4 linked regions of the Homo sapiens genome follow. The protein of the gene in region 3 interacts with the protein of the main gene of each other region in a pairwise test. Each region holds a gene or a part of one and is shown on either strand. Other genes may lie near its edges.

The links.
Region 1: the proteins of CD37 (region 3) and LRRC3B interact in binary tests that used the Homo sapiens proteins (3 or more experiments, as listed by UniProt).
Region 2: the proteins of CD37 (region 3) and SYK interact in binary tests that used the Homo sapiens proteins (3 or more experiments, as listed by UniProt).
Region 4: the proteins of CD37 (region 3) and LYN interact in binary tests that used the Homo sapiens proteins (3 or more experiments, as listed by UniProt).

The regions. Positions count from the first base shown.
Region 1 is NC_000003.12:26,625,763-26,632,788, reverse strand, and holds part of LRRC3B (leucine-rich repeat-containing protein 3B precursor), read right to left. Parts: intron 1-7,026.
Region 2 is NC_000009.12:90,874,819-90,881,844, reverse strand, and holds part of SYK (tyrosine-protein kinase SYK), read right to left. Parts: coding exon 6,996-7,026; intron 4,275-6,995; coding exon 4,065-4,274; intron 3,082-4,064; coding exon 2,892-3,081; intron 1-2,891. UniProt on the Homo sapiens protein: Non-receptor tyrosine kinase which mediates signal transduction downstream of a variety of transmembrane receptors including classical immunoreceptors like the B-cell receptor (BCR).
Region 3 is NC_000019.10:49,331,298-49,338,416, reverse strand, and holds the start of CD37 (leukocyte antigen CD37), read right to left. Parts: upstream 3,012-7,119; 5' UTR 2,877-3,011; coding exon 2,808-2,876; intron 2,704-2,807; coding exon 2,631-2,703; intron 1,509-2,630; coding exon 1,384-1,508; intron 1,271-1,383; coding exon 1,196-1,270; intron 493-1,195; coding exon 388-492; intron 1-387. Other genes in the region: SLC6A16 (orphan sodium- and chloride-dependent neurotransmitter transporter NTT5), read left to right, coding at 6,705-6,800. UniProt on the Homo sapiens protein: Structural component of specialized membrane microdomains known as tetraspanin-enriched microdomains (TERMs), which act as platforms for receptor clustering and signaling.
Region 4 is NC_000008.11:55,875,610-55,882,851, reverse strand, and holds the start of LYN (tyrosine-protein kinase Lyn), read right to left. Parts: upstream 3,018-7,242; 5' UTR 2,749-3,017; intron 1-2,748. UniProt on the Homo sapiens protein: Non-receptor tyrosine-protein kinase that transmits signals from cell surface receptors and plays an important role in the regulation of innate and adaptive immune responses, hematopoiesis, responses to growth factors and cytokines, integrin signaling, but also responses to DNA damage and genotoxic agents.

The sequences.
Region 1 (7,026 bases), on a different chromosome or scaffold from region 3:
CAAAGCAACTCCATCTTGGATGCTAATCCACCATGTTGACTTCTGATTAACTTCAGTTCCTGGAAGGCCTCTAAGATTTCCCACTTATCTAATGTTCCTTGTGTAAGAACAGGTACTTACTTACTATAAATCCTGCCCTTAGGTCAAACAAACTTGATGTTACCCTACTTCAATAGTTCTACAAATCCTTTCTGAATCACCCCTTTCCTACCATATATAAACCCTGGGTCTAGGGGGTAACGGCTCGGGGATCCACCATCTTGTCTCGCCATCGCCCGAGATACAGATATGGCTTCTGTTCAGAAGTCCCAATTATAGGTTTCTTTCTGATAAACTAGATTTGTCAGCCTCTTTCTTCAGCCTCTCAGCTTCCTTGAACTTTGAGATAGGTTTGCATAGACCTGCCCATTGCTAAACAAGGATCTATTAAGCCATACTAAGGATGTAATCCTCTTATATGCAAGCAGGAGTGATTTAAAGGTTTTTAGCAGAGAGTAATATGATCATATGGTTATAAAGAGTTGGACACAAGATGGGCACATAGTCAAAATCTTAGGAACCTTCTTCATCTTCCAACATCTTGCCCGCATGGCAATTATTGCTGCAAGAAAAGTTATTAATTGTTTCACCCCTTTGTACCTTGTCCCTTTACCAGTCAGCTATTGCTCTTTTTGTGTCACTCCCCCTCATCCTTTTATTGTAGGCTCCCAGAAGTGCTCCAGATGTAACAGACCCTCAGGACTGCAGAGTGTCCATCTATCATTGTTGGATCTGTAACATATAAGGGCTGGAAGCCCTAAGCAAAGAAATGAGTCTGAGTCAACTTAAACAGAGAAGACATCATATGGAGTAAAAATAAAACAATGTCAGACACATCCTTGACATTATAAACCCATATAACTGAAAGGGATTTTAGAAACCATTTAACTCCTAATTTCCCTCTTACGGGGGAAGTAGAGCCCAGAACATTTGATGTAACCAGCCCAGTGCCACAGAGATGGTTAGAGTCAAAGCTGGAACTAGAACTAGGTTGCCTGGTTCCCAAATAGTCTATGTGCACAAAAAGAGGGCATTTTCTGAGATGTTGCCACCCCTACAAGGTCAAAGCCTTTCTTAGAAGAGTTTTCTTCTTCTACTAAGCAGGTTCTATTTCATCAAATAGAACAAACAAAAACATGCTAATTTCCAAGACAGGGACATTCTGTTATCTTCTCCCAACACTGGATAACATGAGCCATCTGTTTAGGAAACACTCCATGACCACAGTTCCCTCTTTATCACTTAGGGCCTTATTATCTACTTTAAAAATTCTTCAGATCCTGACCTTTTCCCATGGTTCTCCATCTACCTGCCTGTGCCAAAGCCATTTCCTGATAACTGGGAAGTGGGAAGGGAAACGAAGTGAATCTTTAAAAACTATTTTGGCAAGTCTACTTAAGAGAAATTGTTGGAGGGGAAGTTGAAACTTTTGGCTGAAATGCAATGTAGTCTGATAATTCACCCTCATTTCAGGTGATATTGGCCAAGGCTACAGTGAACCTAGCCAAGGGGGCCACTGGGAGCTAAAACACAAGCGAATGTTCATCGGGCCAGGATCCAGGAGGCTATTGCTTCTCCAAGGAGGCACATTTTTCATTTCTCACAAAGGCATCCCATATCTTGGTTGTGGCCCTGATAAAGGATCCTTTTCCAGCTGAAGGTCTTCTCTACTTTCCAATACCAGTATCCACAGTCTTGATCCCTAAGAACAGAGCAGAAAAAGCCAATTCCCTGAGCCAGAGAAGTGAAAACTGGTCTGGGGAGGAAGATCCCAAAGTGCTAACACAGCTAGAAGATCCCAGAGAGCTAAAGCAGCTGTATTACCATTTGCCCGGGCCTGTCCTGATTTATACCTACTGTCTTGGAAAAACAACTGAGAGCCCTTTCATTCTCCAAAGTGTCCCAGTGGGAAATGATAAATTTTATGGTTACCATTGTCTGCAGTTCTTGGGGTTAGAGACCTCCAAGGCATCTACCAATAGAATTCAAGGCATCCACCAATAGAATTCAAGGCATCCATGAACTTGCATGGAAAAAAAAGTCGCAACTTTGTTTGTGAAGCTTAAATGGCAATGTACCATCTCATTCCCATTTGAACACAGGCCATAAACCTCAATAGTAGCCATACTAGTGATTATGTCACCAATATAAATATTTTCATATCACAATACAGCTGCCACAGTTATCTCATAGTAGCATTTATGCCCATTCCTACTTCGAAACAATAGTAGCCACTAGTCCCACTACAAGATCTTGTTATAGAGGCATTATTATGTAAGAGGCACATATATTAGTAACAGTGGTTTCTTTTATAAGTCGATAAACAGATATTTCAATAAAATTGGTTTGTGCTATAATCTTATGTATTATATTTTATGCATTTAAACACCATTCCAGGGCCCGCAGGCTTTGTCAGACTGTCAAAGGGCACTATGGAGTAAATCAGAGTAGAAGACCTTGGCCTGGAGATTGATAAAGCCACATTAATGTGGCACTCTGATATGTGAGAAAGAGACCTTGCCCTCTGGCTGGGGAGCTAGGCTGCCTTTGAACTGATCTATGCTATGAGGTATTATTTAGTACATTCCTCTTCCTTATAAGCCCTCTTCTTTCAGTCTTTATTACTCCCATTCTCTTTTTTTTGTCTTCTCTTATTCTTATGGGATTTTTTTTTCCCCTTATCCTTTGGTTTAGGTTTACTATCAGATATCTCTTAGTCTTACTGTGCTAAGTATTGGGTTCTCTTCCTTTGGATAGATTTTTTTTTTTTTTTTTTTTGCCATGCTTCTCTTACACCTCTTTCTCTCCTGCCCCCACCTTTCCCACCTTTCTCTGCTGTTGTCTGCTGCCAATTGCTTGGCCCTCCTGACTTGGCTGGCCACACACCATACCCCTTTCACAGGTTTTGTAGCAGAAACATTGGGTATCAACAGTCCACAGTACATCTTCCCTTTGGGAATCATTTTCAGTTTACTAACAGACACTGTTTCTGAGCCACAGTTAAAATAACAAACTAGCCACCCCAATAAAAAACCACACAACACATAGCAGCAGGAAAATAAAAACTTTGAAACCCTAAGCTTAAATATAATTGTGGAAAGGGTGAAAAGTATTCCACTTAATAATCCCTGATGGCCAGACATCTAGAGAAGATCAGCAGCCTGGACCAGGACTCTTCTCAGTGTATAAATTCCCAGTGCAGCATAGGGAAAGCATACTGCTTAGTCACCGCTAACAGGGGGAGCCCTCTGTAGCAGGCCTATACAATGATTATTTCTCCAAATCAGAGCTCAGGTTAGAAGACTCAGGGGAAAGCCATGAGACCTCATGACCTTTGTGCTTTAGCTTTAGAGAACTATGCACTGTGCCTTCAGCACTGTCCTCGCCAGAGGACGTATTTGTCCTGAAATATTATAGCAGTCTCTCCCAGTAAGTTACTGAATACTTCTTCTATCAATGACCTAAAATTGGAAGGAAGAAGGGAAGAAAGGAAGAAAGGAAGGAAGGGAGGAAGAGTGGGAGGGAGTGAGGGAGGGAAGGAAGGAAGGACGCAGGGAGGGAGGGGGAGGGGTAGAGGAGGAAAAGAGAATAAAAGGAAACTAATCTGTATTTGAAAACATACTTACCACTTTGTCAAATATTACTCCATGGTTGAGAATAGCTTCACATTTTTAAATAATATTTGTTTCCATTTTATTTCTAATAAAAGGCACCTAAAGCATTTTTTAAACTGTCTGAAAAGGTAGTGACATTTGCACTGGACAAGTATTAACATAAAAGGTAGCTTAGAGAGCTTAGGATCAAATGAAACTGTAAATTTCATAACCTTTCCTAATCTGTTCATTTATCCTCCTAAAGAATAAAATCTGTTTTTATTTGTGGAGGATTTTTTTTTTTTTTTTTTAGTATTTACTCATTTATCTATTTTGAAAGAACTAAATGGCCCTTACTATTAACTTACCACCTGTGGTGGAGAAATAGTATGTTCAAGCCTATCAGCTTTTGAGAAGATTCCAGATTTCATTCTCATATGAAATGGCCATTTCATATGTCATTATCATGTTGAGATGTATTAATTCACTAAGTTTTTATAAAGTATATGTAGATATATACTAACATCTCAGAGCTTCCATCATGGCTCCAAACCATTTATCAAATAAAGTTCATCAAAGTCACAATCTTCAGATAATAAAATGAATACAAAATTTATTAATCTTATGGATTATTCAAATCTAAATATAGATTAAGATATTTTATATTTTTTTAAATAAAATCAATAAGGGTAAAGCTTCTCAGGTCCTACTCTGAGCTTTTTTTTTTTTTTTTCCAGTATCTTCTTCAAACTCTTTCTACAGAACCTTATTATTTAGCTTCTCTTGCTATTAAAATTAATCAAGATCAGATATTCCGAATCTTGATTATTTTTTTTCAAATATCTTACCCAAGACTTTTAACTCATACTATGTATTGTATAAACATATCTATTCATTGTGTTCTGAATAAAAGTTTTTATTTTTCCATATCCTTTGTCTTAGAGCATATTGCTTAATAATAATTGTTATTCTAAATGTCAATGAACTCATATTTATATGATTTAAGATAAAGGTACACCCCAAAGAATCTCCCCAGCAGACGTGTCATGTGGGACTTTTGATATTGCACCACCTAGCAGCCACAGTAAAATAAGTAGAGGGGATTGGACCACATAAGTAAGATGAGGATAGAGCTCCCCTGAATAAACTGGGAATTGGAAACCAGAATGTCTGCCCAGGTTCCAAAGGATTCCCCTTCCTGTGGTTCCTAGGACATAGACCATTTCTTTTGGATATTGTCACACTTAACTTCAGTGTTATGTCTCTTTTCTTTAACACTGCTGCAACTCAACTAAGCCGGTATCCCCACCTCCAGAAGGTCACCCTTCTGGATGATCTGGTTTTGAATGGCTCTTCCTGAAGAGTGGGGCAGCTGTGCAAGTTTTTCCTACTTGCATAAAAACAAAATTGACTTCTAATGAATTCTCCGGAAAATGAATGCTTCTCCTTGAGATAACTGGGGTCTTGGGGATTCAGAACAGTCAACCTGACACAAAACGCAGACTGAGGTCGAGGGTAGGAAAAAAAGGAAGAGGAGGAGCAGCTCTTAGTGCACGTTGGCTCTCTGTGGGCATTTTGGTCACACTTGGGTGCCTCAGCAGCCAAGCCTCACCTCCATCTTCCTCCACCTCATCCCTCCTCTGACAATATTGTTGCCTCACTCTCTTCTTTTCTTCCTCCACTATAGGATGGCCTAGGTCCTCACTATAGGATGGCCTAGGTCCTAGTGTGCCACAGCATTAGAGATGGAAATCCTATTCCAGGTGACCTAAAAGGCACCAGGTTTCCACTATCTGTCTATGACTCTTGCCCCGCTGATCTGATTCTGAAAAACAGGATTCTTCTATCCCTCCTCCCTGTTTACCCTGGCTGACTTTTTGTTGGTTTGTCTCCAAGGGGAGGACATCCTGGTACTACAGCTACAGAGAAAAGACATGAGGTGTTCTTGGAAACTAGAACTTTGTCCCACAAAAACGCTTAAAGGTATATGAAATCCTCAAGTGACTGCAGAAAGTCCCCTTTGTTGAAGGGGCCAGGTAGGCGAGGAAGTGGCAAATATTATCGGAAGTGACAAAGAACTATTTTTCCTCTTTCTGAGCCCCAAGTACAGAAATATATTGTTTTGCCTCAGCTTTACATCAGCATAAACTTTAATGAAAAGTCAAGAATCCAGGAGAAATCCAAGAATTTATGCCACTGTATTCAAAAGAATGTTTCCTGTGATAGGAAAAATTCCCTGTTATTTTCACAAATACCTGGGAGTGCAGAAGGATGAAGCAACTCAATCTAACAGAAGACTGCTAAAATCATTAGAAATCATTTAATCTTATTTAGAATCATCCAGAGGTTTGCATAGTTAATTTTTGTTGATTTGAAGGCTTACAAATATTCTGCAATGTTTTATTTTTGCAAAAAGAGTCACATTTGTGGTAGCTTATTCATTATATATGATATAGAGTTTTTCTGGTTATGCTGATTGAGAAGCATTTATACGAAAATAAGCAAAACAGTCTTTTTAAAAATAAAAAGCCTTTTCCTAATTAATTTTAAGATGTTAAAAAAACAGCAGGAGTGAGCATAATTTATTTATGTATAATGGTACCATATTTGAGCAAGGGTCAAAAGGCAGTGGTTCCAGCATTAGTTATGCTACAAATGCACCAAATGGCCTTGAGCTCAGCATTGAATCTCCTCCCTGAGTCTGGATTGGGTGGGATAATATCTGAGATCCCTCTTAGCTCTAACTAATTATGTGACTCAATTCAGAGAGAGGCTTTCATTTGCAGAATACAACTGCTACATAAAACTGCCTCTAGTTTTTGACTACAGAGCAAATCTCTGTTCATATTTGGATCCCTCCTTCCATTTACCTTCCTATTTAAAAAGGGAATGTCTACAAAAGGTTCAGAAGAGAAGTCCATTACCAGTAGCCAGTTCTCCAAATCGATTTCCTCTACTAGTATTCCACTATACCAAGGTGTACCCCAACAAACTTTGAGACAGGCGATATGTAACATCAGTCTCCCTAATACTCTAGTCACAGGGGCTCACAGGCCAGGACTGGCACTTATAGTACGCCGCTGCAGTTTGGAGTAAAGGGTGAGGGGCCTCACTCATGCTTCCTTCCAGACAAATGGTTTTTAGTACCAAATAGGGCTGGGAGTATGGGACACACTCAGTGTTCTCTGATCACCAGACCACTCAGCCCCACCATTTCCTGGCTGAATGTCAATAAGCAAATAACTTGAATTCTTCAATACTGGGTTTCTCCATCTATAACATGAGATAAATAACTCTACCCATTTTTCAGGGTTGTTGTGAGGGTTAAATCTAACACAAACACACACAACATCAAAGATAGTGTCTGGCACATAGTAAGAACTCCACAACTGCT
Region 2 (7,026 bases), on a different chromosome or scaffold from region 3:
GCTCTCGGAAGGAGCTGCTGGATCAAAGAACACCTGTGTTTTTCAGTTGTGATGCTGCACAAATCTACCCTGTCACGCATGGTTTCCCGAGTGCCAGCGTTCGTTTGCTTCCACAGCTAGCACTTTTCTTTGATCTTGTTTCACTTTTTATTCCTTTTTTTTTTTGAGACAGAGTCTTGCTCTGTTGGCCAGGCTAGAGTGCAGTGGCACGATCTCAGCTCACTGCAACCTCCACCTCCCGGGCTCAAGCAATTCTCCTGCCTCAGCCACCAGAGTAGCTGGGATTACAGGTGCCTGCCACCATGCCTGGCTAATTTTTGTGTTTTTAGTAGAGACGGGATTTCACCATGTTGGCCAGGCTGGTCTCGAACTCCTGACCTCAGGTAATCCACCCACCTCAGCCTCCCAAAGTGCTGGGATTACAGGCGTGAGCCACCACGCCCGGCCCACTTTTTATTCTTTTCCATTTCACTTTGCTTTGTTTTCATACAGAAATCTTCCACTACCCTATCTTTTCGGTAGTTTTGTCTCTTTTTGCTGCTTCCAAGATGGCTTTTATTTCCCTAGTGGCTTTTTTTCTTCATTGATTGTCCAAAGACAATCTTTGGTTTACTTTTTAGTTTAGTTTACTTTTTAATGGTATGCTGTTTAATATCTACAGCAGTTTTAGAATTGGCCCCATGTTCTTTGACTCTTTGACACTTCTCCTCAAAAGGGTGGTTCTATCTATCCCATCCTTTGAAGCTGGTGGCCTTGGCTGCTCTGACCAATAGGATCAGGTGGAAGTGACCCTGAGGTAGTTTCTGGGCCTGGTTTTATAGGCCTGGCAGCCCCCACTTCCTGCCTCTTGGGTAACTGCTCTCAGCCCGCAGCTGCCATGCTGCCCAAGGGAAGCATGGGCCCAAGGGAAGCCCAAGGGCCCCAAGGAGAGGCCATGTGCAGGTGAGCTGGCTGACAGCCCCGCAGAGGTCTCCAGCATGGGCTGTGTCTAACCAGCTGCTCAGTGGCTGAGTAGTGTGAGTGAGCAGAGTGGAAACGGTCCTCCTGTCCCTCGGGCCACTGTGCAATCCCCTGTGTGAGCAGACGCACTGAACCCTGCCTACCTGGCCCTGCCCACACAGCAGGACGGCAGGGAAACCAACACCTGGTGGTGTTTTTGGCAGTAAGTTTGGGGTGATTTGTTATACAGCAGTGGATAAGGTGCCCAGCATTCATGTTTCATTTTCTCTATCTCCTCTGTGTCCTTGTTTCAGACAGGCTGTCTTCTTTTCTGTAATGATCATGATGAGGTACATCCAGCATTACAACAGGCTTCTTTCTCCAGCATGTCCCATGCTGGTCATCCTAGGCTGCTGTCTTCCTTGCTCTGTTTCCCTGCTATTTCTATCCAGGCCCATGCTGATGCCTTTCTCACAGTGGTTCACCTCTGAAGGGGCTTCCTTCTGGGAAGCTACTGTATGAAGAATGGGGTGAGGAGGGCCAGCCTGACCCCTGCTGTACTCTCGCCTGGCCTTTGTGCTCAAGATGGTGGAGTCTGCCTGCCTGCCTGGGAGCTTGGCTCTTGTGGCTTACCCTTCATGCAGTCCCTTTGCTGGCCGAGGTCCACCATTCCCCATCACCTACCAGTCCATGGACTGCCTCTTAGGGAAAGGTGAGTGGGTGGGTATTGTCACTCAGGGTGGGGTCTCTGACCACTGCAGGGCATGAAACACAGGATCCTATCTGCCACCCACTAGGTAGATTTTGAAGGTCTGCCATCTATTTCTGAGCATGTGGACTTCACCAGAGACTAGCAGGGTTGTTAACCTGCCTTCGGCACCCTCTTTGACTCAGTGGGATTGGTGCCATCACGTTTTCCAGTTGGTTAACATAGACCCTAGGTATACACCACAGATGAGTTAATATGAAGATAGAGCTTTCTTATCTTTTCTTCTTTTAGTTGTTATTGGTTCATTTGAGGGTTCAGAGAGGGGTCAAGTTATATTAGCAAGGGGATTGGTCACTGTGAAATTATTTTTTAGGAAGTCCAAACCTGCACCCAGAACTAGTTTCTACTTTATGTTTTGCTGGAAGTCCACCCTTAATTCTTGATAATCTCTGCCTCACCAAACCAAGGGGCATATTTCTTTTAGCTTCAGTCACATAACTATCTAGATCTCTTCTTTCCAGCACTGCATCTATTTTTTGACACTTCAACTCTTCTGGATACCAGTTAAGCCAATAGAACAATTTCTACATATGTAGTGGACATACACAGATGACGAGTTTATTTGGTAAATCTTCACTTTCTAACTTTTGCATGTATAGGTAGGTGTTCATTAGAAAGTTATTTTGGAATAGCTCCAAGCTGCAATATTGGAGCTCTGAACTGCAGTACTGGAGCTCCAAGCTCCAATAGCTCCATGCTGTGGGACAGTGTTCCACCACATGTTATGAAATGTCCTATCAGAAAAGGATGCCATGGATGAATCTGGTTTGAGAAATGCAGTGCAGTAAACCCTCTACTGAGATTCGTAATGTTAAGTAGCATGAAAAGGGCTTCGGGGAAATCCTGCAAGAATCAAGCTGTCCAATGCAAACTTTTCAAATTAACTTAATGAAGGAATCCCATTCTTCTTTTTTCAAAACAAATCTTCACTTAATACCTCGATTCCTGATCATTCCATGAAACATAATTTAGAATATACTACTTTGAGTAAATCTCAAGGTGTGATATTATTTTTATTTTTTAAACAGTAAAATCAAAGATTATAAGAACATATCTTACATAGTTATTTTTCAGTAGCAAAACTGCTTTTTGAAACCATACCAATAATAAAATAAAGAAAACGTACATTTATCTTGCATTTTTTACCACCTGCTGCTCTGAATATTAGCTAAGTTGTACTTACCTTGTAGTAGTTTTCATCAGCACGCAGTGCTTTGGAAAGTCCGAAATCACTGATCTTGGCGTAATGTTGGGTAACTAGCAACACATTTCTTGCAGCCAGATCTCTGTGCACAAAATTGCTCTCCTCCAAGTACTTCATGCCCATGGAAACCTGATGAACCAGTTCTATGATGTTCTTATCCTTGACATGTCTGAAAGTCATAATGATCTCATCAGCTATAACAGACAGTGACCCATTTCACAACAAACAACCATGCTCCTCACGCAGGCAGTGGGTGAATCTACTCCTTCCCTCTTCTTAAACAACAAAACTCACGAGTGGTGACAAATAACTTTGTTAGCATATAGCTCTTCAGGACTCAATGCCATATTCTCCTGGTGTTCAATGGGATTGAGTTTCCTGGCATGCTTGGAATTGCAAGAAAAGCAGTATAACAGAGTAGTCAGGCCTGGCTCACAGATAGCCAGGCACCACCTCAAATCCTTGTTCCAGTATCACACAGGTCACAGAACTAACCCTGAGAATCAGTTTCTCACCTACAAAGTCAGGGTAAGAACACCTCCCTTCCATGGAGACTAAAGAGACAATCTAAGTACAAACGTAGCACAGCAAATGAGGCAAGCTCCTCGGTGGCCATCATTCTGTCTTACTCCAAGTGAGTTTCTTCATCTCAACAACAGCTTTAGATGAGAAGAACACAATTACTCCCTTGATGGATGTAATCAATTAGCAGTGATTGGTATTTTCAGAAGTCATCACTCATGAGAACATAAGGTCAGCCAAACAGATAAGACTTAACTGTCACCTCTTAGAAAAGCATTTATTTAAAATGTTTCTTTAAAAAGAAAGTGTTCTTCCCAGTGAGAAAGGAGATTCCATGTCAAGATATTCTGAGGCTGAGTCTATCACTAGGCCAAGACTGAATGACTACAGGAAGAAAAAAAAGACAAAACTGTCAAATGAGTTCTTCTCTGAACAACTAGAGCTAACAGAGCTGAATCCAAAGACTATGTCTCCCTGTCCCTCTGTCAAGGTCCCTGAGTATGGACCAATAAAGGAAGGCACAGGAGGGTGGGAAGGCTTCCCAAGGAAATCAGGCTGCTCGGCCCATCCAGGGGTGGGCCCTGTCCCTTAGGGGATAGCTTCCAGATGTGTGGGGGCACCTGACAATACCTGTTCTGCTGCAAATACTTATTGAGGGGACCAAGTTCTGCCATCTCCATAACCAGCATCCAGGACTCGGCCTCGCATATCCCGATCATCCGCACGATGTACGGGTTGTCCAGCTGCTGCATGACATTTGCTTCTGCTAATAACTCATCTTTAAGAGCGGGGTCATTGGCCTCGTTTTTCAGTATTTTCACAGCCACGGTTTTCACAACTCTGCAAGAGAAATCATAACACACAAGAAACTTTCCAAAATGCCTCACTTCTAGATAATCTTATCCTGTGAAGCATAATCCCCCTGTGGAAACAGTCCCACGGAAATACCTGCCACAGAGTGGCAATGTGTCTTCAGAAGCCTGTAATGGATGGCTGGCCTTCCAACCTATATTCCCTTATTTTATAGACAATGAGAGTAATACTCCATTACTAAAAAAGAATGGTGGGGGCTGGGCATGGTGGCTCATGCTGACAATCCCCATACTTTGGGAGGTTGAAAGGGGAGGATTGCTTGAGGTCAGAAGTTCAAGGTCAGCCTGGGCAACATAGTGAGACCCCCATCTCTAAAAAAAATCACCCAGGTGTGACAGTGCAAGCCTGTAGTCCCAGCTGCTCGGGAGGCTGAGGTGGGAGAATCACTTGGACTCAGGAGTTCAAGGCTGCAGTGAGCTTCTTGCCACTTCACTCCAGCCTGGGTGACACAGTGAAACACTGTTTCTAAAAAATAATATAAAATAAAAAGAATGGTGAAGAACAGTACTGAAGAATGTCCCAACCAAGCAAAAACCCTAAACTGTAAAATATTTAAATAACTTGTAAATAAACTTCACCAACGATGACATGTACGAATTCCTGTAACATCTTGGGATTCACCATCTCAGATTACATGTAATGAATGTGAATATAAAATGCCTTTCATAATTGTTGAAAGTGAATTTCTAGGTGCAGAATTTAAAAGCATATATTTCAATGTAATACATTGAAAAGGTAAACAACTCTCCTGAGAGAGGCTGAAGAAGACCTGGTAAATGGAGAGATGGGCTGTGTTTATAGATTGAAAGACTCAGTATTGTAAAGACATCATTTTGCCCCAAATTGACCGAGAGAGCCTCTCCTCTCCCCAAATTCTCTAGTTGAAATTATGTCCACAGTCATGTCTATGTTAATTCACAAATTTAAGCACAGAATAAAGATCACAACCTTTCATAATCTGAAAAAGCTTAGGATTAATACAGAAACATTTTTACTCATTGTACAAAATGACTGTGATATACAAACATATATTTTAAAATAAGTATCACAGCCAATTTTGATTGTGTGTGTATATATGTGCGCATGTATATACTTGTGAATGTATACATATGTGTGTATGTTTGTGTGTGTATACATACATGTATGTGTATCTAATTTACACACACACACATGCACAAAAACAAATCGAAGGGACAGATTGGAAAGCAAGCATTTCTTTTTTCTTTCTTTCTTTTTTTTTTTTTTTTTTTGAGGCAGAGTTTCACTCTTGTTGCCCAGGCTGGAGTGCAATGGTGTGATCTTGGCTGGCTGCAACCTCTTCCTCCCAGGTTCAAGTGATTCTCCTGCCTCAGCCTCCTAAGTAGTTGGGACTACAGGTGTATGCCACCACACCCAGCTAATTTTTTGTATTTTTAGTGGAGACGAGGTTTTACCATGTTGGCCAGGATGGTCTTGAACTCCAGACCTCAGGTGATCCACCTACCTTGGCCTCCCAAAGTGCTGGGATTATAGGCATGAGCCACGGCACCCGGCCGGAAAGCACGCATGTCTGTGTATATTTTTGTCTATATTTTTAACCCTTGAATCATAAAAATTACCTACTCACGAATTTTTTTTTTACAAAAATCCCTTACATTTGAAATACCATGAAGCTACTAAATCTAACCACATTCATATTAGTATCATACCAATTCAAACAGAGGGTGTATTTCAAAGGACTTTAGAAACCAGTAGTTTTACTTGTACATTCTATGTTGGGTACCTTCTAAAGACCAAAAGAAATACAAAGATATTTTCGAAATTTAGCAATTTTAACTGTTGTATAATATGTATTGTTATCTGAAATCATAGGATAAAGCCAATAAATAATTATACTAATCATATTTGGAATCAATAATTTTCATGTAAGAAAAATGAGATGTAACTATAAAATTAAAGAAAATAAATGTAAAAACTATTGTTATAATGGAATGATTTTGTTTTAATTAAATAATATCTGTGTGTACAAATAAAGATCTAAAAATATATACAATAAGATTAAGTTAACAGTAGTAATGTTTAGTTAACAGTAGTAGTGTTGGGATGGTATTATACAAATATGATGTTCTTCTTTTCTTTTTTTTGTTTTGTTTTTTGAAACAGGGCCTTGCTTTGTTACCCAGGCTAGAGTGCAGTGGTGCAATCATGGCTCACTGCAGCCTTGGCTTCTTGGCCTCTTGAGCAGCTGGAAGTATATGTGTGCACTACTATGTCTGGCTAATTTTTTATGTTTTATTTATTTATTTATTTATTTATTTTTTTTGTAGAGACAGGGTCTTGCTATGTTGCCCAGGCTGGTCTCAAGCTCCAGGCCTCAAACAATCCTCCTATCCCAGCCTCCCAAATTGCTAAGATTACAGGCATGAGCCACCATGCCAATTTGATGTTTTTATTTTCTTATGTTTCTGCTTGTTTCTATTTCCTAATTTTCCATAAGGTGCATGTACTATTAGGTTGGTGCAAAAGTAATTGCAGTTTTTGCCATTAAAGGTAATGGACGCTTTCATTATAATAGTACCAGAAATTAACAAGAATGGTAGCATTAATAAAAAAAGGGTTTAGTCATGCCAGGTTACATTTTGTTATTCTCAGTCATGTCTAGAACCTGAGCTCATGTGAGGGTGAGGCTGGTGGAACATAGCAACTTACTTTTTCATTTGGTAGTAGCCCTTTTTCACAG
Region 3 (7,119 bases):
GATACCCGACAGGTGAATAGGAGTGCGAGACCATGTGAGTCTCATCGGGGGCGGGGTCCGGTGGAAGCCAGAGTCACTACGGGGTAGGAAGCCGTGTCTCGCTAGGGTCTTGGGACTAGGGGCCTGACAACCTCTGGTCGGGGCGGGGGCGGGGGCGGAGTCTCTCGAGGTAGATGGCGAAGCCACGCCAGGGTCTGGGTACTGGGAGACCAGGCGACGCCGGGGACAGTTGTGTCATCTGGGGAGTGGGGAGCGTCGGGCCTGGGAGGGATTGGGGTGTGTTAGGATCGTAGAGCTGGGGGTCGGGCCCACGTTGGGGTGGAGTCTCCTCCAAGCACAGGGCTGAGGCGGGTCAGTCCGGGAGGGAACTGGAGGAGGGGGGCTTACCTGGAACTGCACATAGTCCCAGCTCTCCTCGGCCGCGGTCTCCTCGGGGTTGGTGCCGTACTTTTGGATGGTTTTCTCTACGACGTCCCGCAAGCTTCGCTCCAGCTGAGAGGCCACCAGTGAGGCTGGGCCTTATCTTCCCCGCCCCACCCCTCCCCCTCTCAGGCTGTGCCAGCCTCAGGCGGGCCCTGTGCATCTCTGGGCCAGTCTCAAATCCTTACTGAATGGCTAGCTCTGTGTACTTCAGGTCTGTCTTTCTGTTTCTTCCACTATTTCTACGGCTCATAAGTCTCTGTCTCTTCTTTCAGGGCGTCTATTTCTTTCTCTTGTTCTCTCTTTTTCCCGTGTGTTTCCCTTTGGAGCTGTTTATGCCTGTCTCCCTTGGTCCAGGTCGGTGTGTCTTTCTATTAATTTATTTTTTGAGACAGGGTCTCACTCTGTCACCCAGGCTGAGTGCATGGCTCACTGTAGCCTCAAACTCCCTGGCTCAAGTGATCCTCCCACCTCGACCTCCCAAGTAGCTGGGACCCCAGGTGCACACCATCACACCCGGATTTTTTTTTTAAATATAGATGGGGTCTCACTATGTTGCCCAGGCTGGTCTCAAACTCCTGGACTCCCACCTCAGCCTCCCAAAGTGCTGGGATTATGGGATTACAGGCGTGAGCCACCAGGCCCAGCCTCTTATTTCTCTTTATCTAGGTTAGCCCCTGTCTGCCCTTGTTTCGGTCTCTCTCCACCCTCTCCCACCACTCCCTTCCCTCTCCTCCCTGCTGGGGGTGGGTGGTGGCCACTGCAGGAAGCTCACCTGGGCCCGCTGAGTGGAGATGAGGATTCCCAGGGTGATCTGTGTGGCAAACAGGAGCAGCAGCATCCCAAAATACTGGGGAGCAGAGTGGAGAGATCAGGCTGACCACCCCTGCAACCCCGGCCCAGGCCATTTTTGAGGGTGGGGATAGGAGTGTTCCTAGGGACGGAGAGGGATGGTGCACTCACCAGGCCCAGGAGGCAGCGGAGCTCCTTGAGGGCCCCCACACAACCCAGGAGGGCGATGCCCATGGTGAAGATTCCTGAGATGGCCAGGACTTTGGACCAGATCTGCAGAGGCACGAAGGCCAAGCCTGGGAGAGGTGAGGGGAGTGATGATGAGCTGTGTGGCACAGCTCCAGGCAGCCCCATTTCCCACCTAGGCAGCCACCCAAGTGGGGAGCAGTATCTTGGTGCCCCTCTCTCTGGGACTCTGTCCCTGCCCCACCCTGAGTCCCTGTTTCCTTCTGAAACTTTCTCTTCTTTCTGGGCCTGTTTCCCGTCCCTGGATCTCTGTCTCTCTTCCTCTTACCCTCTCCTTCCTCCTTCAGCTCCTCCTCGTCCCCAGTAGTTTCAGCCCTATCACTTGTTCTGTGACATTGGCTTGGCTCCTTAAACCTCCCTGAGGCATAGGAGATGATATCTATTTCTTAGGGTTTTTTTTTGAGTTGGAGCCTCGCTCTGTCCCCCAGGCTGGAGTGCAGTGATGTGATCTCGGCTCACTGCAACCTCTGCCTCCCAGGTTCAAGTGATTCTCCTGCCTCAGCCTCCCTAGTAGCTGCGACTACAGGCATGTGCCACCATGCCTGGCTAACGTTTTGTATTTTTGAGTAGAGACAGGGTTTCACCATGTTGGCCAGGCTATTCTCGAACTCCTGACCTCAAGTGATCCACCTGCCTCGGCTTCCCAAAGTGCTGGAATTACAGGTGTGAGCCACCGCGCCCGGCCCCTAGGGTCATTTTGAGAGACACATGAGGACATGTGTTCAACCCAGTCCTCAACACAGGGCAAAGACTTCTTAAATATGAGCGTTTAGGGTTATATTTCATTATTATTTAGGGTCATACTTCATTATTATTTTCCTATTATTAATGTTATTTTGGCTCTTTTACGTCCTTGCTGTATGACATCCATCAAGGGGCTTCCCCTCTCTGAACCTCAAGCGAGGGGAAGGTTTGTGGGGGCATCTGACCAGCCACAAGTCCCGACAGATAGGAAGTGCTTGAGAAATGGCTCTCATGATCATTGTTGTTTGTATGCACAACCCCATTTGCCGGAAGAAGACTCAGGCTCCAAGAAGCCTCCGGTGAGCAGTGGATGGGAGCCTGTAGCCTGCCTGCAGAGTAGGGCACCGTAGGTCTCCCTGAGACAAGGGAGACCCCAGGAAGTTGCTTGGGTTGGGGGAGGCCCTCCCACCTGCCCCAGCCCCCCTCACCCACAAAGGACACGAAGCTGGTCTTGTCAATGAGGATCCAGATGCCGAAGCAGAAGATCAGGCTGCCGAGGACCTGGGGAGAGGAGATGCGGATACGGGGGTGGGCCACAGGGGAAGATGAGGGCTGGGTTAGCGGCAGGGGCTGGGCCCCGGCTGGGTAGCCATGAGGCAACTCACGAAGAAGAAGAGGTTGAAAACGAAGAGGAAGTACTTGATGAGGCTGAGGCAGCTCTCCTGGGCTGACATCTTCACCTAGTGGGGTAAGCGGTCCACTCACCACACAGAAGAGGTGCTGACAGTGGGGGAGACAGGGAGAAAGAAAGAGGCTGAGAGAGAAAGAGAGACGGAGAGCTGAGAGAGAAAGGAAGAACCCCAAAAGAGGAAGTTCCAGGGGTGGGGCTCCACCCACTCCCGCTTCATGTAAGGTGGCTTTCTGTCTCTCTCTCTGTCCCTGTCTCCCTCACCTGCTCCACTGGGACACATGCTCTGGTACCTGAGGGGCCTTGGAATTTGTGGGCACCAAGGACTCATGGGGCAGTCCCTCCCAGGTCTCCATGTCTCAGGCGCTGGGGGATCTAAAGGGACCCCTGATCTACTGGAACCCACCTCTGGGCATGGGGACCTCAGGGCTGACCCTGGACAGCAGCTGACCTCACAGACACTCTGACCTCATGGCCTGCTAAGCTCTCCCATCTCTGCATCCAGCTGTGTCTCCCATTTCCTGCCCTGGGTCTCTTGTTCCTCCTCTCTGGGTCTTTGTCCCCACCTTCCTGCTACTCCCCATCTCTGTCCCCTTATCTCAGCAGAGTCTCTCCCTCCTCTGGGTCTCTGTCCTCCTGCCTCCTGGGGTCTCTATCCTCCCTCTCTCTGTGTTTCTTTATTTTATTTATATATTTGTTTCTTTTTGAGACAGGGTCTCACTTTTCACCCAGGCTGGAGTACGGTGGGGAAAACAGCTCACTGTAGCCTGGGCTCAAGCTATCCTCCCACCTCTGCCTTCTGAGTAGCTGGGATTACAGGTGCACACTACCATGCCTGGCTAATTTTTGTATTTTTTGTAGAAATGGGGTCTTGCTATGGAGTGGGAGTGTTGTATTTTTTATATTTAATTAAAAAAAAACAGAGATAGGGTCTCACTAGGTTGCCCAGGCTGGTCTGGAACTCCTGGACTCAAGCGACCCTCCTGCCTTGGCCTCCCAAAGTGTTGGGATTACAGGCGTGAGCCACTGTGCCTGGCCTCTCTCTGCTTCTGGCCCCTTCTTTGGGTCCTTCCTCCTTTCTCTCTTCATCTCTCTTTTGTTTTTGTTTTTGAGACAGGGTCGCCCAGGCTGGAATGCAGTAGTGCGATCATAGCTCACTGCAGCCCCAACCTTCCCAGGCTCGAGCAATCCTTGCACCTCAGCCTCCCAAGTAGCTGGGACTACAGGTGCACACCACCATGCCTGGCTAATTTTCTTCATTTTTTGTAGAGATGGGAGTCTCACTGTGTTGCCTAGGCTGGTCTCAAATTTCTGGGCTCAAGTGATCCTCCTGCCTTGGCCTCCTAAAGTGCTGGGATTATGGGCGTGAGCCACTGTGCCCAGCCTGTCTTCTTTTCTCTGTCTCCCCCTTCCCCACTTGTTTTTGTGCCTCTCAGAGTCTGCAGCCTGTTCTGGACCAGGGAGCACCCAGGTGCTGGGGGCAGGGGCTGGGTACCTGGGGAAGTGAAAGTGCTACAGGCTCGAGGTGGGAAGGTCCCTGGGAGTGGGGAGGGCGCTGGGCCGTGCCAACACCCCCAGCGGAAGCTGAGCATCAGGCGGTACTTCCTGCCTCTGCAGTGGGGCCCGAGGAGCGGAGGCCCCAGAGGAGGAGGCACTGAGCCTGGGATCCTGACAGTCAGATCTGGGTCTGCAGTGCCTGGTTGCAGGTGCACACCCAGTGGCCTCTGCAGTTTCCTCTGATGTCCCCAAATTCTCTCACCTGGTTTCCTCATCTGAGGCAGCCCCACCATCTATCTAGTCATGAGGTCAAAGCTCCATCTTGTCCCCTCTTCCCCAACAGCGCATCAGTCTCTTAGCCAGATCCCTCCTGCCTGCTGAGTCTCCACTCCACCCCTCTTCTCTGTCCTGAGGGCTCAGGCAGGCTCTGGGCTCCTGCTCTCCTACCTGGACCCTGACTTTAGGCTTCTCCCTGGCTTCTAGTTTCTCCCTCCAGTCTGTCCCCCACATAGCCCCAGAGGGGTCTTTTTGAAACCCAGTCCTGAGCCACACAGTTCTGTATCCAAACGCTGAGTCACCACCTGCCTCATCCCTCAGCTTTTATTTTTTTGGTGGTTGTTGAGACAGAGTCTCACTCTTCGCCCAGGCTGGAGTACAGTGGTGCAATCAGCTGACTGCAACCTCCGCCTCCTGGGTTCAAGCGATTCTCCTGCCTCATTCTCCCAAGTAGCTGGGATTACAGGCATGACCCACTACGCCCGGCTAATTTTTGTATTTTTGGTAGAGACGGGGTTTCACCATGTTGGCCAGGCTGACCTCGAACTCCTGACCTCAAGTGATCCGCTCACCTCGGCCTCCCCAAGTGCTGGGATTACAGGCATGAGCCACCACACCCAGGTTTTTGTTGTTGTTGTTGTTTGTTTGTTTTGAGATGGAGTCTCACTCTGTTGACCAGGCTGGAGTGCAGTGGCACGATTATGGCTCACTGCAACCTCTGCCTCCTGCGTTCAAGCAATTCTCCTGTCTCAGCCTCCAGAGTAGCTGGGATTACAGGCATGCACCACCATACCTGACTAATTTTTGTATTTTTAGTACAGACAGGGTTTCACCATGTTGGCCAGGCTGGTGTTGAACTCCTGACCTCAAGTGATCCAACTGCCTTGGCCTCCCAAAGTGCTGACATTACAGGTGTAAGCCACTGCGCCCAGCCCCTCAGCTTCTGTTTCTAACCACCACCAACGCCTCTCTGCTCTACCATTAAAGTACATTGCAAACCCAGCCACTTCTTTCCAAGGCCACCATCCTAAGTCAGGTTCCCATCATTTTCTACAAAAATAATTATAGCTGATTATAGTGGGTTGCATGGCGTTCTCCAAAAAGATATGTCTATGTCCTAATCCCCAGAACTTGTGGTGACCTTATTTGGAAAAAAGGGTTTTGCGGGTATAATTACATTCAGGATCTCAAGATACTGCATTATCTGTGTGACCCCTAAATCTGATGACAAGTGTCTGTTTTTTGTTTTTGTTTTTGAGACAGAGCCTCGCTCTGTCACCCAGGCTGGAGTGCTGTGGTGTGATCTCGGCTCACTGCAACCTCCGCCTCCCAGGTTCAAGCAATTCTCTGCCTCAGCCTCCCGAGTAAATGTGATTACAGGCAGGCGCCTGCCAGCACACCCAGCTGATTTTAGTATTTTTAGTAGAGATGGGGTTTCACCATCTTGGCCAGGCTGGTCTTGAATTCCTGACCTCGTGATCCACCCACTTCAGCTTCCCAAAGTTCTGGGATTACAGGCGTGAGCCACCGCACCCGGCTGACAAGTGTCCTTCTAAGAAACACACAGAGGAGAAGACACAGAAGAGGAGAGCACCATGTGATGGTAGACACAGAAATTGGAGTTCTACAGCCACAAGCCAAGGAACTCCTGGAGCCACCAGGAGATGGAAGATGCAAAGAACTGATTTTCTCTCAGAGCCTCTGGAGGGAGTGTGGCCCTGGTGACACCTTGATTTTGGACTTCTGGCCTACAGAACCATGTGAGAATACATTTCTGTTGTTCTAAGTAGTAAGTCTGTGGTAATTTGCTATTTCAGCCATAGGAGACTAATACACCAATCCCTCCTTCCCACCCACTGATCCCTCCTCAGAGATGAGTACATGATTAACCAGAAGTCGAAGGGTAGGTGGCAGAGTGCAGTGGTGCAATCACGGCTCACTGCAGCTTTGATGCTCACCAACTTGGTTTCTTCTTTCCTAGGCACACAGGAGGACTTCATTTCCCAGGTCTCCTTGCAGTGAAGTTGAGGCCATGTGACTGGTCTTGGGCCAATGGAATGGGTGCAGAAGGGACACAGCCCATTTCTAGACTCAGCCTGAAATGTCCTCCATAATCCTTACTCTTTCTCCCTTCACTCACTGGCTGCAGGAAGCTGAGAATTATCCTTGGACTTACATAAAGCATTTTGGACTTTATGTAAGTAACAACCTGTTGTATTAAGCTACTAAGATTTTACGGTTGTTTGTTAAATCAGCTAACCTTAAACATCCTAACAACTACAAATAGAATACCTGTTACTGCATACACTATATATATCAAAACATTATTATGGGCCAGGTGAGGTGGCTCATGCCTGTAATTCCAGCACTTTGGGAGGCTGAGGCAGGAGGATCACATGAGCCCAGGAGTTCGAGACCAGCCTGGGCAACATAGTGAGACCCTGTCTACAAAAATTAACAAAAAAATTAGCTGGGCTTTGTGGTATGTACCTACAGTCCCAGCTACTCAGGAGGCT
Region 4 (7,242 bases), on a different chromosome or scaffold from region 3:
CTACTACTCCTAATGGTACCGCTTAACCAAGCCTGTGACCTTAGACAACCCCCTGAATCTTTTTCTGTATCTGTCCCTCTCCATCCTATAGGAGCCACAAGAGGTTCAAATGAAATTAGAGTTCAGGAAGACTTCAGAGCCCTGAACAAATGAAAGGTGCTAACACCTTCACCATCATCACTAGGAAGAGCCAGTAAAGGTCTGAGGCTATCTCTGCTATCAATGTGACATTGATCAATGTCCTGACTAATGATTGTGGTGGCCTTTCAATGTTAACACTCATCCATGCATCACTGAGATCATCAGTAGGAGTGAGCTTATAACAATGTTCCCTGCTGTGGGCATGTATACATGGTGTCCTTATTTATAAAGTTAGTATGGGTTTGTACATGAATAATATGATTTAATTTTGTTAAGTTACAACTCCACATAGTCATGTGAACCAACTGGAATCTCAGATGTTTTTGGTGATTTATCTAAAAACAAATATTGCAGATAGAAGTAAAAGGCTTTCAAAGTCATTGAACAGTGCTGGACCACTTTTCTGCTAAAAGAAAGCTATTGGAGGGCAGGGGCGGGATTACAAAGTTTCGACCTACCTTTGTAACACCAATGACTCTAAAATAATGTAGGTCTTCTGGATTGGGCCAACTACCTTTGCAGGAAACATCTTAACCACCCCACATCAGGACCTCTCTTCCAGTAATAAGTAGAGAAGAGCGGTGCTGAGTGGAGACTCTCATTTAGTTACCCACACTAAATGTGGGTAACTCAGTGCTGGGTAACTTTACAGTCAACAAAGCCTCTCAAATCCCCGTTTTAGAAACCACAACAGAAAGGGCCAGTAGGCTTCAAACACCTTAGGGACCAGCTCTATTTCTTCATCTCCCTATGTCCTCAGTTTTGCATAGGGCAAGCTCACAGGAGGCCTTCATTCCTTCTTCCAAGTAATCTCGAACTGAGCACCTACTATGTACCAGGCACTGGGGCTATCATTTTGGACAAGACAGATGAAGCAGTTTTCATGGAGCTTCCACTGTAATGGTTAATACAGACTATCAACCTGCAGACAAATCAATATAACTCTGGCTGCTGCTATAAAGGAAATCTTGGCTGAATAAATGGCCCAAGTGGCTTATCCCAAATCACAGCATATTAAATGATGGAAGAGGCCAAAACTCAAGGTTCCTGGCTCCTACTTTCTCTCCCCTTACATCTGCTGCCCTCTATCCTTCACTCAGCAAAAGGGCCACACATTTACATCCAAAGAGGCCCAGTCACCAAAGACTCTATGATCCAGTGAAATTTATTCAGGCCTCAAAGCGCTTACCTGCTTACCTCCAAATGAGAATGGAGGGACTAACTGGATCCCACCCTTTCCCAACAAAGCTTACTCTTACAGAGAAGGGCTTAGTAAGGCCTGGGTTCTTGCAGTGCCTATTCCCCAGGGCATGGCTTTAGGTGTTGGCTGTACAGAGAAAACATCCCTGTAGCCCACCAGTTTATTGGCTAGTTCTTTAGGGAAAGTCAGACTACTGGGCCCTGCTTTGGGACAGCAAATCCCTCATGTATTTATTAAGCAGATTTACTAATAAGGTCAGATGGCTAAATCTGACATGGTAGTCTTAGCTTCAACATCACCAAGCTGCAAAGAACCAAGAAGCCTCATTTATATGAATAGAATTCACTGCAATAAATAACAGTAACATCGTTTATGAAATGCTTGGTACGTACTAGGGGCTTTGTGTGTACTAAACAGCCCCTGAGGTATATATGCTCTCTCAAAGATGAAGAAACTCAAACAGGGAATTTCAATAATCGGTCCCCTAAATATACAGCCAGAAAAGTGCAAGGCCTAGATTCTGAGCTGGCGAAGAAGGGCGAATTTGGGATAATTAACACACTCGGATATACAAAAACACAACCGCTAATCCACATGACAGGCAGGCTGTTGGAAAGTTACGAATGCACCGCAAGCAAAAGATGCCACCATGGGCCCAGAGAATGCAGGAAAGTGGGAACTGACTCTTACGCCCTTCCCCCAAGGCGAAGGAAAGGCAACCCCTGAATTCTTAAAATAACTCTCGCTTCCTCTCAGCCGGCAAAAGCACCGGACTGCTCCTCGGCAGGCCGAGAGGCGCCGCAGCGGGAGGGTGAGTTCCAGCCTCCGCTGCAGCCCCTCGACGTCACGCTCCTGCCCGGGGCCACCAGGGAGGGCAACTGTCCGCGGGCCTCGAGAGGGCGCCGGCCGAGCCCCATCTCCCACTGCCAGGAGACCCAGGGTCCAGAGGGGAGATCAGATTGCACAATCCGAGGAGTCCTCTCCAGTATCCCCGCCGCGCGCCCGCTCCGCAAGGGCAGCGGCTTCCCCACTGTGTGCGAGAAGCGGCCGGAGCAGGGACAGCAGCCGGCCCTCGGGCCCTCACCGGGAAGGACACGCGGTGAGCCCGCCCCCGCGCCCGCACCTCCCACCGCTCCCCTGCGCGGCTCCGCGGCGGACACCTGCGGAGCCTCAGTCCCCGCGCCCTGGCTCCCCCGGGCCCGGTCACCCGTCGGCTGAAGACATCTAAGAGCCTTCGCCGCCGGAGCCCAGAGGCGGTGCGGCCAGGAAGCCGCCGCGGGCCGCGCCGATGCCCCCGGCCCCGAGTCTACCCTGCGCCCGGGACTCCGGCTGGTGGCACAGCCGCGGCCCCTGCACCCACTGCCCGCGTGCCCGCGCCCACCCCTGGGCTCGCGCAGAGGACTCACCCGCTCGCGGTGAAAGTTTCGGGGCGGCGGAGCTCCACGGTGACTTGAGTTCAGAGTGGGGGGCGCGACGGGGCGGCCCAGCAGGACCTGCGTATGGGGAGGCTGCTGGCCGGGAACGCTGGACGCGCGGCGAGGGGCTGCTGGCGCGGGGCCGGGGGTGGCGCGGCCGCCCCGCTTGCCGCGGGCTGGAGGCTGCAGCGCGTCTGGCCCGGAGGCGCCACGGCCGGGGAGCGAGCGGCAGCGCGGCCCGGCGCGGCGGGAGAGGAACTGGCTGTCTCTGGGCTCGGCCGAGAGGTCCCAGCTACTTCCTGGTGCTCGGATTTGCATATTGAGCCCGGAGGGCGGGGAAGTGACCGTTTGGTCCCTGCCCAAGGTTTGGGTGTTTGGTGTGGCCGTCGCGCAGGGCTTTGAAGGCACAGAAACCTGGCGACTCAGTCTGCAGCTCCGGGGAGTGGAGCAGCCCGGGCCAGCCTTCTCCTGTAGGGACGGACGGAAGGATCTCCAGAGGAGCCTGGGCTTCGCAGGCACATCGACTACACCTCTCGCGTCTCCTTTCCTTTCCTTCCGACCCATCCCCAAGGTATTATTAGGAAGGGGGTGCTCCCAGGAGCGGAGGAGGTGCGCTCTGATCCCTTCCAACATTAGGGGTTCTCTAGAGAAAGGATGCGATATGCCGAGGTGATGCTCGGGGTCTCGCTGAGTTCTTAATAATCATTACAAAGTAAGTTCCTTAAGGGTGTACAGGAGGCTGTTCAGGGCATTGATGGGGGAGGGGATGACGTAGAGTCAAATGGCCCGGCAAGTTCTCCGTTTCTCAAAGCCTCAGTTTCCTCCCAGGACAATGGATGTGAGGATGCCTATCTCGTGTACCTTTCTGTACAGGGCCCGCACTGCCCGCATGCAGGAATGCTGGCGTTATTTCATTCCTACTACAGCTGCGTCCCAGCATGTAGGGCAGTGCTTGCACGTAGCAGCTGGTGCCTAACCAGTGTTTGCTGAAAGAATGTGTGACCGCGTGCTCAAGCTCATGTTCAACTCAATAAATGCCACTTACAAATCCAAGATGTAAGATTAGGCTCGGGCACCGTGGATACCCACTTCTTCTAAGCCAGATTCTGTTCACTGGGATCTCAGCATTGCATTAATAGCAAACATTTACAGAGGGCCTGATGGGCCAGACACTGCCCAAAGCACTTCCTTTCTCTCATTAACAATGTTCTGAAGAGGCTGACCCCAGCTACAGAGCAATAAGTCAAAGCAGCTGCCTTGTGACACAATCTGATACAGCAGTTATTTGTTACTAGGAAAAGAGTACTAAAGTTTGCATACTAATTCCTTAAAAGAAGAAAGGTGGTTTATACCTGTGATGTTCACTGGTATGTAGTTGTTAGTTTACTGCTGAAGAGAAGGGGTGGGTTGCCCATGGAAATACCCATGGGAAGGTGTGTGATTGAAACCTATCAAGAATCCTATGGAGAAAAATAGAAAAATGAAAAAAGAACAAAACAAAACAAAATGAAACAAAAAACAATGAATCCTACAGAATAATTCACTACCTGAGGGCCTATTGCCTAGACTTTTCTTAAGAATGACCTCTCAAATATATTAACCCTACATTAAAGTTTCTGCTGCTACTGATGAATCCTTGAGATCCTGACTAAACGTGTGTGGCAAATAAGAATAGGATTCAAAAACGTTTGGTATTGGTTAATCTATCAGGAATGTCTGTCAGTGTTTTTGGTAAAATGTCTCTCAGGGTAAGGAACAAAGCATCATCAGGCTTACCTGAGCTTGCAACCAGATCCCCAACTCCCTAACTCCTCACAAAATTGTCCTCACTAAGTTCATCTCTTCATTCTTATTTGGAAAAAAACGATACGATGCTAATTTCCACTTCTTAGGCTGCATTTATACTTGCTGAATACTTCATTCAATCATTCTCCATATCTGTCTTTCCTTCTTAATGTCCCATGAAAGTTCTATTTCTCAGGAAAGTTTTATTTAAAGCTCCTATTGATAGGCAACTTTTTAAAGCATCTGTAGCATGTATGGTGTGCAACATTATTTTAAACTAGACCTAGGTACTTTTTAGCATTGTTTGCCCATGTTAGGCTTGTCTCCTCAACTACTGGTAAACTCCTTTTGGGAAGGCACTGCCTTTTATATTTATCTATTCCCCACTCTACCTCCCAGAAATTATGTTGGGTGCTTTAAAATAGTTCATTAGTATTGATTGATTGGTTAATTGATTGATGACTGATTTATCTCACCAGTTTTCTCTAAATTGAGCACAGAAGGCAGTGATCAGAGGCAGGGTGCAAATCAATTAAGGCTCCTTGACAGGATAGATGGGCCTTTGAAGAAAGGAAGGAATACGATGGGCGGGGCAAGAGAAGGCGGTATTGTAAATACGTTATGTACAGTGTATCCTCATTTTTGCAGATATCATATTTGTGAACTTATCTACTTGCTAAAATGTATTTGTAATCTCAAAATCAATACTTGAGGTGTTTTCCCAGTCACTCATAGATATGCACATCCCAGAGCAGTAAAAATCTTGAGTTGCCCCACGCACACCCTCCCAGCTATAGTGGAACAAGGCGATGCTCTGCCTTCTTGTATTCTTTTTGCTGTCCATTTAGTTTATGCTTTCCACACTTCTGTGCTTTTTGTTGGTGATTTTGCTGTTTAAAATGGCCCCCAAGCGACTGAGCTCAGTGGCTCATGCCTGTAATCCCAGCACTTTGGGAGGCCGAGGTGGGAGGATTGCTCGAGCTCAGGAGTTCAAGACCATCCTAGGCAATATCGTGAGACCCCCCCCACAATAAAAAAATTAAAAAAAATAAAAATAAAAATAAATGGCCCGAAGCGTAGAGCTTGCTAAAGTGCTGTCTGTTGTTGCTAAGCACCAGAGGCTGTGGCGTGCCCACTGGAGAACCGTCCTGCAGGCAGGAGCTACTGTGCTATTGGTTGTGAACTCAATGTAATGAATCAGCCATATATTAAATAAGGTGTCCATTAAACAGAAACACACACCATATAAGGTTATGTATTAATCATAATGTAATGAAAATGTTGTGTCCAGAGACTCACAGGAACCTAAGAAGCAGTGACTCGGTATTCGCTAATTCAGTGTTCACAGTGACTATAGAACATAACTACCACAAATAATGGGACGCAGCATACAAGAGCATCCCATCATCCACTGTGGGAAAATGAAATATCTGACCTCTAGGAACTTCTTCATTAGCACCGCCATCATCATCTCATGCGTGGTCATGGTGCTTGAGGCCAGGATTGGTCATGCTGCTCACCTGTTCATGTTGGTCCACCAAATCATCTGTGCTGCAACCCATCCCACTGCCACTGTGTGGGCTGCCCCTGCTGCCTCTTCTAGTATTCTTCCACCTAACTCTTGCCAACTTGGCCACAGACCTAACTACCAAGTAGCAAATAATACAGAGTAGTGGTGCTCAACCCTGGGGGCACATTAGAATCACCTGAGCTGCTAAAATATCTCCATGCCCAGGCCCTACCTAGACCAGTTAAATCAAAGTCTTTGGGGGATGGGGATGGTGAGGGGAACCCCAATTATCAGAGACTGAAAACCTTGCCAGGTGGTTCCAATGAGCAGCCAAGTTTGGGAACCACTGGTGGAGTGTGCTCCGCCCTCCCCTAGCCTGGAGCTCACCTCTCTGAACAACGTCCACCTTCCTCAAGCCCTCATGCCCCCAGGTCCTCTGTCTTTAAGAGAGTAGCATGTGGCCAGGGGCAGTGGCTCAAACCTATAATCCCAGCACTTTGGGAGGCTGACGTGGGTGGATCACCTGAGATCAGGAGTTTGAGACCAGCCTGGCCAACATGGTGAAACCCTGTCTCTACTAAAAATACAAAAATTAGCTGGGTGTGGTGGCTCACACCTGTAGTCCTAGTTACTCGGGAGGCTGAGGCAAGAGAATTGCTTGAACCCAGGAGGTGGAGGTTGCAGTGAGCCAAGATCACGCCACTGCACTCCAGCCTGGACAACAGAGTGAGACTCGGTCTCAAAAAAAAAAAAAAAAAAAAAAAGTAGCATGGATATATGCCTCTGTGTGAGGGTAAAGTGGTAAGGATTGAGAATATTAAACCTGTATTACTGGGGAAAATGGGTGACTTTAGCACAAGTGATTATAGATACAAGGAATTAATAAAGAAAAACAAAAATTGCTAAGAATTATTTTAGGCTACAAAAAAATTTTAACAACTATATGAAATATTATTTATACATAAATTGCCACAAGGTAGATTTTTTCTTAAATACTTATCCAATGTTAACCGGTATTACAGGCCAGGCACAGTGGCTCACGCCTGTAATCCCAGCACTTTGGGAGGCCGAGGCGGGCAGATCACGAGGTCAGGAGATCGAGACCATCCTGGCTAACACAGTGAAACCCCATCTCTACTAAAAATATAAAAAAAAATTAGCCGGGCATGGTGATGGGCACCTGTAGTCCC